Regions from separate parts of the Homo sapiens genome. Here region 1 is linked to region 2. A link means that fine-mapping ties the variant in region 2 to the expression of a gene that starts in the linked region. Tissue or cell type: whole blood. Region 2 holds a variant in brackets; the other region holds the start of a gene. All regions are shown on one strand. Distances are between the middles of the regions.

The links.
Region 1: CCR3 starts here. The variant in region 2 is fine-mapped to the expression of CCR3 in whole blood (TOPMed, PIP 0.98).

What each region holds. Positions count from the first base shown.
Region 1 is chr3:46,240,402-46,244,401 of GRCh38, reverse strand. It overlaps CCR3 (C-C motif chemokine receptor 3), which reads right to left and starts at 1,942. Exons shown (of 2, transcript NM_178329.3): 1 at 1,864-1,942. RefSeq lists an enhancer at 1-8.
Region 2 is chr3:46,261,905-46,266,444 of GRCh38, reverse strand. It overlaps CCR3 (C-C motif chemokine receptor 3), which reads right to left. Exons shown (of 2, transcript NM_178329.3): 2 at 1-1,297. The coding sequence starts at 1,286. The coding sequence ends at 219. Among named protein-coding and RNA genes, the nearest start is that of CCR3, 22 kb to the right of the region's middle. The variant G/T (reference allele first, on the strand shown) is at 2,495.

The sequences.
Region 1 (4,000 bases), 22 kb after region 2:
TTGGTGGTCTCTTCACACGGACGCGCATGAAAGATAGTACACTTGTATATCATTTTGTATTCTGATACCTTAACTTCTTTACCTTTCACCTAGTTCCTTGTGGCTAAAAATTACTTAAAAATGTAATTTGTAATGACTCCAACATATTGTATAGATAATCATGCTTATTTAACCATTGCCTTTTTGTTGTGTGATTAAGTTATTCACAATTTGCTCTGCTATAAATAATACTGCAATAAACATATTTGTGTGCATTTTAAAATTATTTCCTTAAGGTATATTACACAAATCACAATTTCTACATTGAATTATATTTCGAAGTCTCTTGATGCATTTTGTCAAATTGCTTCCAGAAAGTGTGTAACAATATATATACTCTTGGCACTAGTAGGTGATGGTGCCCATTTCAGCAAGCATCCATCAATATGGAGAAGATCTAAAAGAAAGAAAAAATTACTTGGCCAATTAGATGGGCAAAAGGGTTGCCATTATTGTTGTAATTAACATTTATTTCATTACTGATTTTTTTTAACTACAAGTATTAGTCATTCATATTTCCCTTCCTGTGATTTATCTCTTTGTGCCCTTTACCCAATTTATTCTGCTGTACAGATCTGCTTTTTTCTTATTAAGTCATACAAAGGGCTCATATTTCTTCTCCCAGAAGAGCTAACTCATCCTGCGTGGTTCAGTGTAATCATCACCATTTTCTGGAAAGAGCTGCACTTCAAAAATATACTTCAACTTATACCACATCCATGTGGAAGACCCCTTATTCCCACCACTCTCACTTGAAGTACTTGTCAAAGTTAACACTCATCCTCTGTCAATCCAGGCGTTTCCAGAAGAATCGGTAAGGCTTTCTAGCTCTACCCTCTAACACAGACAATCTCATTCACCCAGAAAAAAAGACACCAAATCAATCAACTGACTCATCTAGTAGCTTGATTTAGTGTGGATTTTCAATGAAAACTTCAAATAAATATATATATTTCCACACATACATACTTAATGCACACACACATATGTATATAATCAGCCCTCTGTATCCATGGGTTCCACATTTGTGTATTCAACCAATCACGGATCAAAAATATCTGGGAAAAAGCTCCACAAAGTTGCAAAAACCAAGCCTTGAATTTGCCACGCAGCAAGTGCTATGTTGACTCCACATGAATGAAGCGCTCTGTATGCGTTGTATTAGGTATTACAAGTAATCTAGGTACTTGTATTTAAAGGGTACTGGAGGATATTTGTAGGTTATCAGCAAATACTACATCATTTTATATAAGGAACTTGAGCATCTATGAATTTTGGTATCTGCAAGGGTCCTGGAACAAATCCCTCACAGATACTGAGGGAGGACTTTGTATATATAAAAATGTATGTGTGTGTGCGTATATATATATATATATATATGTGTATATATATATATATACACATATATATGTAAAATTATATTTTTGCTATTTCTTACAAGTCAATATAAATAAACACAAGCTATTAAGTGTAAGCTCTTTGGAGTAGTCATATGCACATAGTTGAGAATTTGTGAAAGTATAGGAGGGTAACATGGGCACAGATGTTGACTAAAGAGGTATAAAGGGCCAAGTTTGGGTGAGTGCTACACGCAAACTTATCATTGTGTGGATGGGAGACAGAAAGGGAAAATTAGAAAAAGCAAGAAGAAAATGGAGATATGTGGCCATATTTTCTCCCACTCTGGCCCCATACTACCTCTAAATTGCTGTGTACCTTCCTCTCCTCCCTCCTAGATCCAAGAGCACTGCTGGAAGTTACTACTTCCACCTGCCTGGACCCCTCCTTGTTCCACCTCCCTTTTCCTGGAAAAGCGACACCTACCTGAAAATCTCTTCTAAGTAAAAACTTCTATTGTATTTCGATAAGTTCTTGCCCGGATAAGCACAAGAAGACCAGTGGTACCTGCTAATTTAGTGAAGTCCTTGATATGTCCAGTGATAGCTTAGGCGTCACCACTCCTGAAACAGAGATACCATCAGATCACAGACATTAGTAAAGTAGTAAACAATGTAAGTATATAACTTCCTGTTTTAAACAGACTAGCTTCTCAGTTTTGCAAGTTTTCAGAAAGATACTTTCGTGCAGTTCTTCTTTTTCATGATTGACACCACATACTAACCAGTCACCTGAGAAATCCTTGCAATTAGTGCTGCTTTAGGGGCTCTCCACCCATTGGCATTGCTCATTTTTAGTGGTGGGGGGTTGTTATAATTTTTTTTTTTTTTTTAAGACAGGATTTCATTCTGTCACCCAGGCTGGAGTACAGTGGCATGATCTCAGTTCACTGCAACCTCCACCTCCTGGGTTCAAGGGATTTTCCTGCCTCAGCCTCTGGAATAGTTGGTATTAGAGGCACATGCCACCATGCCTGGCTAATTTTTGTATTTTTAGTAGAGACAGGGTTTCACCATGTTGGCCAGGCTGGTCTCAAACTTCTGACCTCAAGTGATCTGCGAGTCTCGGCCTCCTAAAGACCTGGGATTTATAATTCTTGAATAAGCATTGATTTGACTCATCGGGAGACAGGATGAAGAATGAAATAAGAATTTCCCGGCAAAGGAATAAACTAATTATTCTGCAGGGTCCAGTAGACACTTGGATGGGGCAAAATGTGGCTGCAAAGGTTTAGACAAGTCTAAAAGACTTGAGTTTGAGTTTCAGTTGTGGCATACACAGCTACATAAGCTGGGGGTAGTAATTTAAACTTGCTGGACCTCAGCTTTTTCATCTCTAAACTGGAAATAATGATATTTAAGTCATAGCATTGCCGTGGAACCAACTAAGATAAATATGTGAAAAGTCTCTGCAGAATATACAGGGCTAAGGAAATGTAAAGTGTGGGTAGAATGCCACTGTGACATAAGCGTCATAGGGCAGAGCCATGTCTCAGGGCAAAGCGTCACAGGGCAGAGCCATGTGCCTGCTGTATGTGCTGATGTGTCCCTTGGGACCTAGCATGGCACTGGGCACAGAGCAGGTATTCACCCAATATTTGTGGGAAGAACTCTGACTAAGCATGAAGTGATCTTTGATACACTGACTAACTCGACAAATGAGTGTAATGCACCAAAGTGTTTATCAAACGTTTGATATGTGTGTAGGACTGTGCTGTATGCTTCATGATAAAGAAAACATAGGAACAAAAGACAAAGAAAGAGGAAGGAGGATAAGAGAGACAGAGAGAGAGAGAGAGCGCACACACATGTGCATTAGAGAGAGAGAGAAAGAATAGGGAGAGAATTTGAGAGAAAGAGAAGAAAGGGAGGAAGGGGCTCAGTTTCCACCTTAAAGAGTCTATAACCTTGTTGGTGATCAGAGACAACAGAGACCTGATAAAATATCAAGAATGCTCAAATATAGTTAAAGCATAACCAAAGAAACATTTCACTATTTAATCTACAGCATATTCAATATAGCATATTCAAATTGGCTAAAACAAAATTTTCGACTGATAGTAAGATCTCAGACTTTGCTGCTGGACACCTGAATGCAAAACCTACCTTTACCGCTTAATAGGGATATCACCGTGGGCAAGCTACATAACCTCTGTGTGCCTCAGCGTGCTCTACTGCAAAATGATGTAGCAATGCCTAGCTTGTAGGATCTGTGTGAGGAGCAAATAAATTAGGACTACGTGGAGGCCAGTGTGTGGCATGTGGACAGCGTCATGAAAATACTTATCATAGTTGTCATGACAGACCCTCTCAGTGAGAAAGAGGCAGCCACTCAGGGTGGTCTGAAATATAGTATAATATATTGTGCTCTGATTCAGCATGTGGGATGTCAAATGCAAGTTCTACAGGGTTTAGAAAACAGGACCATGTGGGCTGAAGGGACTGGGAACGGCTTCATGGAAGAGAAAGGGCCCGAGGGATGAACAGAATTTGGCCATGTGGAAGGGGTAGGGAGAGTTTCCAGGAAAAAGGAAGTAGAGCTACCAAGACCAAGAGGTGAGGTG
Region 2 (4,540 bases):
GGGTTGATGATGAGTACGCTGCCCAGCCCCTGGCCTGTGGTAATGACCTTAGGGTACATGCATCTACTGCTACTGCTGTGTGTATATTTCAGTGTCTTCAAGAGCTTCAGTGTTGCACTGGAAGTTTGAAGGACTGTTTTAGAGGTGAGTGTGGAAGGCTTAATGTGTTTGCTTCATCTCCTTGGTCCTTCCTCTTTAGGCAATTTTCTGCATCTGACCTAAAACACAATAGAGAGTTCCGGCTCTGCTGTGGATGGAGAGACAGAGCTGGTTCTTTCCAGCTTCTCACTAGGAAGGAATGGGATGTATCTGCCCAGGTGCATGAGCAAGTGCCTGTGGAAGAAGTGGCGCAGGTACTTCCGGAACCTCTCTCCAACAAAGGCGTAGATCACCGGGTTCATGCAGCAGTGGGAGTAGGCGATCACCTCTGTCACCAGCATGACCAGGTCCAGATGCTTGCTCCGCTCACAGTCATTTCCAAATAAGATGGATTGATAGGAAGAGAGAAGGATAGCCACATTGTAGGGTGTCCAGAAAATGAAAAACACCGCCATGATGACAAAAATGAGCCGGATGGCCTTGTACTTTTTTTTACTGGGGCACCTCAGCAGCGTTTTGATGATTCCTGTGTAGCAGATGGCCATAACGAGCAGAGGGAGAACGAGACAGAAGATGGTCATTCTCAGAGTGTGGAAATGCCTCCAGCTATATACTGTATCCTCTGGGTAAAGAGCACTGCAAAGAGTCTCTTCAAACAACTCTTCAGTCTCATAGAAGATAAATTCAGGAAGAGCTGCTAGCACTGCCAGGCCCCAGGTGACGATGCTGGTGATGACACCAAAAGTGACAGTCCGGGCTCGAAGGGCAAACACAGCATGGACAATGGCCAGGTACCTGTCGATTGTCAGCAGGATTATGAAAAAGATCTCGCTGTACAAGCCTGTGTGATAAAACCCTGAGAGGAGCTTACACATGCCATGGCCAAAAACCCAGTTATGCCCCCTGACATAGTGGATCCAGAATGGAAGGGTGACGAGGAAGAGCAGGTCCGAAATGGCCAGGTTGAGCAGGTAGATGTTGGTCATAATTCGGAGCCTCCTGTATTTTATGAGGATCATCACCACCACCACATTGCCCAAGAGGCCCACAGTGAACACCAGGGAGTACAGCGGGGGCACAAACTGGGCCATCAGTGCTCTGGTATCAGCTTTTTCACAGAGCAGGCCCACGTCATCATAGTAGGATGTGGTACCAAAGGTCTCAACTGTATCTAGTGAGGTTGTCATTTCACTTCTCCCTGTGATAGAAGAAGAAAAATACAATCCCACAATGAAGCATAATCATCCTTCGTAAAACACACCAGTTGATTTATTCATGTACTCAACAAAGATGCCACATGTGATAGCAGCCTAGGGATTCTTTAACATGAATTTCAAAAGGCATATCAGAGGTGCCAGGAAAAGGATTGAGGAAGGAAAGAGCTGAAGCTTTCAAAGTTAGCATGACCCGGCATGGGAAAAGAAGCAGAAATGTTGTGGGGTGGTGGTGAAGAATGGGGATACAGATTTCTGAAAGCATTTAAAGGAAGAAATACAAAACAGGAAAAAACAGGCTAGATAATGATAACAATATAATAATCATTATTATTACTACTGTCTCTTACGGCATTTTGCATTTTATGTTTTACAGTTTACATATACCTTAAAAATCCTTATCCATTTAAAAGCAAAATATGTATAATAATAATAACAATGATTATTACAATTACAAGTAATTATGCTTCTCCAGGGCCCCATAATGATGAGCCATTCATTATAGTTAATGGGGAAATTGAACCTTGAAGAAATTTAGTAATTTGTTCAAAATCCTCTAACAAGTAAATATAAAATTTGGGCTAGATCTTTAGTCTCTATCCATGTCCATTTCTCCTGTCACTAGATTCAAATGTAGTGATTTTTAAATTTAACTTTTGAAAAATTTGCTACGGACTTGAGGAACCTGGCTTGTGTGCTCTTAACAGCATTCTTATTCCAAATGGCATAATCCAATCCACAGCAGCTGTGAAAAAAATACACATTTTGTCTGTTACACATGTACAATCACAGTAATTAACTATTACAATAATTACAATTATAAGCAGCATTAGTTTAGGTTACTTTCCTTTTCTTGCCCCTGGTGATGCTGAGTTAGGCCTGGTAACATGCAAAAAGCAAACCCCTGGGAGCTTCTCCATCACAAAGGGGTAAGCAGGAGGGGTCAGTCAATGGGATTTCTCACTGGACTTGATATTTCTTAGGCCAGGAGCCCTAAGGCCAGTGCCTGCTTTTCTTGAGATTATAGACTTCGGTGGAAAAGGAGGAAAATAGAAAACAGATAAGGCAGGAGTCATGGAAGGACAGTTAAGCCATGCACTAGTTCCTCAGAGGGCATCCAACTGACTTTCTCCTTTCTAGGAGGAAGGGACAAGGGTGAAGATGTGAATATACAGGCCGAT[G/T]GGCATTTCTCAAGGTAAATCTGAGAAATGCTTAATAACTGGGGCCAATGCGGGGAATTGTTTTTGCTTCTTAATAGAATAATTGATCGAATACTGAGGCCCCACATGTTGGGGTTCTGGGTAGTCAAAGTCAGTGAGAATAGAGATGGAAATGGAGCCAGTCCTAGCGCCTCTCAGCTGCGTGCCTTGGACAAGCCCTTAATGCAGAGCCTCCTTTACTTATATCGAAAGTGAGGACCATTGGGTCACTTGGGGTTGTGATGAGGAAAAATGAGAGTGTATGTGAGTTCACATTTGAAACCAGAAAAAGCTGTAAAACTGGTAGGAAGCAGGAATGAAAGAAGGACAATTAGAAGCCATTTCAAATGAAATTAGGAAAAATAGGGTCCCTTGGGTGGAACTTGTTGATCTCTTTTCATGGGTCTGTCCAGGTACATCTCCCACTGATCAATGGCACATTCCAGGCTTTTGAGGAGGAAAATGGACTGAGGAACAAATGGTTTGTGTGTGCTCCCATCAGCATTCTTATTCATAATAGCATAATCCAATCCATAGCAGCTGAGAAAAAAAATACACATTTTGTCAGTTACACACGTACAATCACAGAGTGTCCTTCTGCACTTCAGCATCTAAAGCAAGAAAAGAACAGAACTGCTAATTCTGGAGAACAAAGGTATAGTAGCCTGTATTCACCGTTAATTATTTGTATTTATTTTCCTTTTTCTCCAAGAGTGATTTAAAAACAGGTCAAACTTTAAAAAAATTACTTAAGTTTTGCTCAGTTTGAGGGTAGTGTCTTTAATTCATGTGTTATTTCTATAAAATCAACATGATCGGGATGATAAACCATAGAACCTTTTGGTTTGGGTTTCAGGGCTGCCTATGAGCTTTTAGCACTGAAGTTCACAGCTCAAGAAAGCATGCAGGTCCTCCAGAGTCAGCAGCCAAGTCCTTGATTACTAGCTGCATGGGATCAGAGACAGAAAATCTCATATGGGCAGGGGACCTTGGCTCATGCCTGTAATCCCAGTACTTTGGGAGGCCCAGGTGGGAGGCTCACCTGAGCCCAGGAATTCAAGACCAGCCTGGACAATATAGTGAGATCCTATCTCTACAAAAAAATAAGAAATTAGCCAGGCATGGTGGCGCATACGTGTGGTCCCAACTACTTGGGGGGCTGAGGTGGGAGAATCCCTTGAGCCTAGAAGGTTGAGGCTGCAGTGAACTGTGATCACGCCGCTGCACTCCAGCCTGGGCGACAGCCAGACTCCATCTCAAAAAATAAATAAATAAATAAATAATTAAAAATTAAAAAATTAAAAACCTGATATGGTTTTCACCTGTCTACCCAGTCTCAATCAAGGTGAATACTTAGATACAAAATAGTGAAGAGGTTTGAATTAGGCTTTCAAAATGGCCTTTTACATTTTGGAAAACGATAGGGTAATCGTAAATAAGTAAGAACAATAAGAAAGAAGAGCACAAAAACGAAAGTAAAAATCACCCAATCTCCTCATGCAGCATTTACCACTGTTAACATATCTCTGTGCAGATATGGATGCCCGTGTGCAAGATTTACAAAAGTGAGGTCAACTAAAATTACTCACAATACAACTCAGCAGTGAAATGTGCAATGATTCTTTAGTCTCCAAACTATTTTGGTCTCTGTTACCAGCTTCTCATCTGCTGGATAGCAGGAAAAAGGATTCACACATTTTAGTCCAAAGTGGTTTAAACTTCTCTTGATTCATTCATTTGAACAATGATTTTAGGTTTTACTCATCCTCTTTATGCTGTCAGCTTATAATTTCAGTTTCTTCTTTCAGTGTTCCTTTCTAAGATGGTGGCAGAGATCTGGAGGAAGGGCCACTACAACTTGAGACATGGGGCAGAGTGGGAAGGGGGTGTTCCTGTCTCCTGTTGGTCCTTGATTTATATGACTGGTGTCTGCTGAGTGGGGGTGACCTGGTTCCAACGCTGAGCCTTTTTCTGGAACCTGCTGTGGTGGTTTGTAGCTAATATACTCATGAGGTATTCATTCTTAGT